Linked DNA regions of Homo sapiens. The protein of the gene in region 2 interacts with the protein of the main gene of each other region in a pairwise test. Each region holds a gene or a part of one and is shown on either strand. Other genes may lie near its edges.

The links. Proteins that work in one complex are often made in the same cells at the same time.
Region 1: the proteins of ZNF587 (region 2) and INSC interact in binary tests that used the Homo sapiens proteins (3 or more experiments, as listed by UniProt).

Annotation. Positions count from the first base shown.
Region 1 is NC_000011.10:15,121,423-15,124,922, reverse strand, and holds part of INSC (protein inscuteable homolog), read right to left. Parts: intron 1-3,500. UniProt on the Homo sapiens protein: May function as an adapter linking the Par3 complex to the GPSM1/GPSM2 complex. Involved in spindle orientation during mitosis. May regulate cell proliferation and differentiation in the developing nervous system.
Region 2 is NC_000019.10:57,862,738-57,865,617, reverse strand, and holds the end of ZNF587 (zinc finger protein 587), read right to left. Parts: 3' UTR 501-2,880; downstream 1-500. UniProt on the Homo sapiens protein: May be involved in transcriptional regulation.

The DNA of each region.
Region 1 (3,500 bases), on a different chromosome or scaffold from region 2:
TACTAGGTAGGTGCTAAGTAGATAAATGAATGAATTCGTGAGGGAGGGAATGAGCAAATGAGTCTGTAACTTAGACCCTTGCAACCTTCAGGCATTTTTCCAAGATGCTGTTATCTAATGTGGCTGTCATTGTCCTATGCCTGCTCAATTCCAGCCCTGTCAGCCGCCAAAGCAGATGGACAGCACACATTCTAGGGAGCTCTTTGTAAATGACAAGCCTAAGAGAACTGAAAGAACAGCTTCTATGGGGATGGGGCCAGGATTAGTCTACTGCCTGGTTTCTAAATGCCACATTTTAAAATCCTACTCTCCCACCCTCCCCCAGCCTCTCTGCAAATTCCACAGGGCCAAAGTGCAATCATAGTCTAAAATGAAGAAGAAAACAAAAGCATCACCTTTTCCACCATAGGGCTCATGGGGAGCTGTGTTCCTATTTCCCCTTAAGGCCAGAGCCCCCTAACACCTCTGCAAAGCCCAGTCTATCTTATATCTACCTGAATAAGGAGCCTAATCTCTAATTTCTCATCACCAATGAAAGAGGGGAAGCCAGAAAAGCAGATAGTGAGCCAAGAGGAGTAATCAGTGTGGCCACTTCTGGTCTCCCATTCTTCCTGCTGACACCCTGCAATCATACCCAGCCCAGCCCTAGACCAGCACAGTGACATCTCCCCAACCCCTGACAGTCTCCTCACCTGGGATTCTGAGCTGTGAGGACCATAGAAAAGAGGGATACAGGAGTGGGGCTGAAGATAATGCATTAGCCTTGAGTCCTGCTATAAATCCAACATAAACTCTTGTTCACGGATGGATAGCTGGGTGACAGATGGGTGTGTGGGTGAATGAACAAGAGGAGATAGAAAGTTGAATGAGTGAGTGAGGAATGTAAGAGTAAGTGAGTCAGAGGGATGGAATGGGCTGTTCTGTCCTAGTGCTGATGACATCTTTGAAAGGATGGCTCACTGGACTTAGTAAGACCCACTTTCTGTATTCTCCTTTAAGCATATGTCTAGTGCAGTGTTAGAGGTAGGAAGGAGGTTGACAGCTCCTGACAAATGTGAATCATTTGTTCCAAGGAGTCTTCCATAGAATTGTAAAGATATTTTATACAAGTCCCCAAGGAGCCAAGTCAGGACCACCTGGGAACCCCTTCTATCTCCTGTATGGTCTACAAACCAGAGATAAGGATAGATAGAGAAGCCACAGCTCAGGGATGCCACTTGTGACTTAGCCATCTCCTCCAGGGACCTTCTTAGAATCATCCGGGAATTAGATGTACCTGTCACCAGCCTCCCAAAAGCTCCTTAGTGACATCTTAATTTGTACAGAAGATGGTAAGGTCTCTGAGGGACAGACATGGTTGGCAGGCACCCCAAATGCCAGGTGTCCCAAAATGAATGATCATTTTCCTCCTCAAATCTACTTCTCTTCTCATTTTTATTCCACTGAATGGTTCCATCATCTATCTGGTTACTCAGATGATAAATCTTCATTCATTCATTTGTTCAACATATATTTGTGGCATGTGTCAGTAACATGGTACCATGATACCTGCTAGGATAAAGTAACGAGCAAAACCAGACATGGTTCCAACACTCACAGAGCTCATCATCATATAGAGAAAGTAAGCATTAATGATTACATAAATAAATGTAAAATTGAAACTATGATAAAGGCTTGAAGGAGGCACATGTTTTAAAACTTTATAAAATGGGGTTGGACCTGGTCCTGAAGATTATGAAAGTGACAACTCAGCTGAGAACTGAGAGTAAAGCAGGAATTCGGTAGGTGGAGTCAGGAAGAACGAGCATTCTAAGCAGAGGAACAGCAAATACAAAGATTTATGGTGGGAGGGAGCCTAACAAGCCCTAGAGACTGAGACTCAGCTGAGGCCAGTGTGGCAGGGAGAGCCAGGGAGGGAGTGCTGGGTAGGGAGATGTAGGAGAGGGCAGCAGGGCCAGGCAAGCAAGACCTTGTAGGACTTATTAAGGAGTGTGGTCTTTATCTTAAGATCAATAGGAGGCAACTAATGTACTTTTAAGGAAGAAAATGATATGAACAGAGTTGTGTTTTGAAATGCGCTCTGGCTGCTGTGTGGAGAACAAATTGGAGGGGAGCCAGTGTGGATATAAGGGTACCAGGGGGCTCTTGTGGTACCCCAGAAATGTGAAGATGGTACCATGAACTAGGATGATGCTGGTGGAGATGGAAAGAAGTGAAAGATTTGAGAGATATTTACAAGCTAATATCAACAAGATATGGGGACGGATTGGATATGGGTTTTGAGGGAGAGAGGTGTTGAGGATGACTGCCAGGTCTGTCTGCCTTGTGCAGCTACCCAGACGAAGGAGTCATTCAACGAAATCTAAAATACCTGAAGAGGACCAGGTTTCAGTAGGATGAAGAACTACAGAAATTCTGTTTTGGACACATTGAGTTTGAGAGGCCTTTGAGGCATCAAACTGGGAGTCACTTAGACTCCTTCATCTCCCTCACTTTCTGCATTCACCGGTCACTGTGTCCTATTGATTCTACCTCCTCTTCATTCGAACTTAGTTCAGGCCCTGGTAATTACTGTATGAATAATTAAAACAATCTCCAGGCTCTTTCTTCTTCCAATCCATTCACCCACCTCATGCTGTCTGTCTAAATATTGCCTCCTGAAAGAGGCCATTTCTAACCACCCAATCTAAAGTATTCCTACCCCATTACTCTCTATCACAGTCTTTGGGGTTTTTTCTTCTAAAAACATGTAACAATGTATTGTATTGGTTGATTGGAGAAATAAATATACATATATGTCCTAACTCTGTTTGCTAAGAGAGCATATAAACGATGACACACCAATCACAAGGAGCACAGGTAGCCTTTAAATCTTGGTTTCTAAATACCATTTTCGACTAAAAGGATCCAGGGCTCTTCAGACAAATGGCTAATTCCAGGGCTGTAGCAAAGTAAGGAAACTAAGCCTGTAACTTCTTGCTATAGTAAATAGTAAGGAAGAGCACAGAGAATCATGGAGATGCATCAAAAACAAAGAAAGCCAGCTTGCAGAGCCTCCCACTAATCAAGTTTGGGACAATGTGAACATTGAGATAAAATAAAGATAATAATTGACTATAACCCATTGAATAAATGAAGAATTCATGAGACCCTAGTGATAGGAAGGGAGGGAGTGGGGAAAAGATTTTTTTAAAGTAGAATGCCAACTACTAAATACGGAAGAAATAATTGATTCAAAATGATCAACGATGATAAAATCAGTGGGTATAAGTTTGATAAGGAACAGGTTATACACAGTCTCAAAGTATCTCACTACAAATTACTTATTAATTCCAGAGAGAAAAAATAATAATTTTGCAGTGGAGAAACTGGCAGACATTATTCTTAAGCAAGTGATAAAAGCTCCCATCACCAGCACTGGGACAATCCCCACATCATGTGCTTGCTGATATGAAAACTGGAGAGGACATAACCTCACTGCAGTTGTATTCCTGCCCCTA
Region 2 (2,880 bases):
CTGCCAGGTTCAAGCAATTCTATGCCTCAGCCTCCTGAGTAGCTGGGATTACAGGTGCTAATTTTTGCATTTTTAGTAAAGACATGGTTTAACCATGTTGGTCAGGCTGGTCTGGAACTCCTGACCTCGTGATCCACCCACCTCGGCCTCCTGAAGTGCTGGGATTACAGGCATGAGCCACCACACCCAGCCAGGAAAGTTCCTTATAGATTCTTTCTAGCTATTGAAAAGAGAATTATAATCATCTAAAGAGGATTAATTCAACACTTAGGGAAAGTAGAGGTTAGCAAGAGGAAGTTACTTCTCTTAGAGTATGTGATTCAAAGGAAAAAATGTGCCACATCAAATATACATGGACTGGCTAAACATTTCTAGGTACATGTAGATTTATAAGCCACTGTAAGATTCAACACAATGAGGAAATTACTGGTGTAATAAAAATAAACATTAGATTGATGAAACACAGTAAAATAATTTCAAACAGGAAAGAGGTATGAATCTTTTGTACAAAAAAAGTTTGACATATATTTAATTCACATACAAGCAGGAAGATTAACTTCATAAGAGAATTAACAAAAGTTGTATTAATTCAAGACAAGAGACTGCAGAGACTAAAATTGCTTAGTACTGAAACTTTTGCTTATATAAACTGTAGTTTATGGAGAAAATAAAGAATTTTTTTGTTTTTTTTGAGGCAGGATCTCACTCTATTCCCCAGGCTAGAGTGCGATGGCACCATCTCGGCTGATTGCAACCTCCATTTTCCAGGAAGGCTCTTTAATTCCCCCTGATTACAAAGGTTTTGTGTGAACATAATTTGGTGTAATAAAAAAAAATTTACACCACAAGAGACAAACATACTCTTCAGTGTGTGTGGTCATAATTTGTTTGAACGAGCCCTTTTAAACTTCTAGATATCATTGAAACTCCTATGTTGATTAAAAATCATCAAAGATCTTTCCAGTGAGAAGGATGAAGATATTACTGAGAATGAAGTATCACTATTTCATGTATGTGCCTGTATGTGCTTATATAACATGCTGTAATACAAGGTGACATTTAGGGGCTGAGACTGTTAACATCTGACTGTACCTTGCTATTTGTAACTTACAATCTTATTCACATTTCTCAAGTGCCATGCCTTTAGGTGCCTATACATCATGCTATCATAGGATTTCTAGGGATAAGCCGAGTGCGGTGGCAGATGCCTGTAATCCCAGCACTTTAGGAGGCCGAGGGGGGTGGATCATGAGGTCAGGAGTTTGAGACCAGCCTGGCTAACGTAGTGAAAGCCCATCTCTACTAAAAATACAAAAATTAGCTGGGCGTGGTGGAGGGAACCTATAGGCCCAGCTACTCGGGAGGCTGAGGCAAGAGAATCACTTGAACCTGGGAGGCGGAGGTTGCAGTGAGCCGAGACCATGCCATTGCACTTCAGCCTGGGTGACAGAGTGAGACTCTGTCTCAAAAAAAAAAAAAAAAAAAAAAATTTAGGGATAATATCTAAGCCCATATAACATGCTGTTATAAAGTTATAAAGTATAACATTTATGGATTGAGTTTTTTTTTTTTTTTTGAGATGATGTGTCTCTCTGTCACCAGGTTGGAGTGCACTGGTGTGATATTGGCTCAGTGCACCTTCCACCTCCCAGGTTCAACCGATTTTCTGGCCTCAGCCTCCCGAGTAGCTGGGACTACAGGCACCCGCCACCATGCCCGACTAATTTTTGTATTTTTAGTAGAGACAGGAATTCACAATATTGGCCAGGGTGGTCTTGAACTCCTGACCTTGTGATCCGCCCACCTCAGCCTCCCAAAGTGGTGGGATTACAGGCCTCAGCCACCACACCTGGCCAAGATTCTTCATATAGCTGATTATCTTGCCATTTCTAACTTACAATCTTTTATCCACATTTCTTAACTTTCTTTTGTTACACTAAACGGGACAGGAAGTCTTAACTCTTGTATCCACCAAGCATGTTAGGAAAATAACAGAGATTCCATTAGCAAATTAAGCTCCCCAAAAAACACAAATACATATCTAAAAAATGTTGCAAAGACAAGAAGTGGCCAGGGCGTGTTGGCTCACGCCTATAATCCCAGCACTTTGGGAGGCTAAGGCGGGCGGATCACGAGGTCTGGAGATCGAGACCATCCTGGCAAATACAGTAAAACCCCGTCTCTACTAAAGAAAAGAATACAGGCCAGGTGCAGTGGCTCACGCCTGTAATTCCAGCACTTTGGGAGGCCGAGGTGGGTGGATCACGAGGTCAGGAGTTTGAGACCAGCCTGACCAACATGGTGAAACCTGGTCTCTGCTAAAAATACAAAAATTAGCTGGGTGTGGTGGCACGCACCTGTAATCCCAGCTAAAGAGGTGGCTGAGGCAAGGAGAAGTGCTTGAATCCAGGAGGTAGAAGTTGCAGTGAGCTGAGATTGCGACACGGCACTCCAACCTGGGCAAGAGAGCAAGACTCTGTCTCAAGAAACAAAACAAAAAAATTAAGCTGACGTGGTGGGCGCTTGTGGTCCCAGCTACTCAGGAGGCTGAGGCAAGAGAATGGCGTGAACCCGGGAGGTGGAGTTGCAGTGAGCCGAGATCGTGCCACTGCACTCCAGCCTGGGTGAAAGAGTGAGACTTCTCAAAAAAAACACAAAGTGTCCACTCAATAACTTTGCTTGAAACTGTCTTCATGTTCTTCACTTCACAAATATAAAGCTGTTACAGTGGACTTTGTGAGGTTCCATGTTTTTGGTCAGCCATAAGAGGAAGAATAATTCAGAGTGAGAGGAAACAGATTCTAGGCAGCCCTCAGGGAAGTTGAGGAGGTGGCACCCTGCCTCCGGGTCCCTCAGAATGTCCCATCTCCCTGTCAGTAT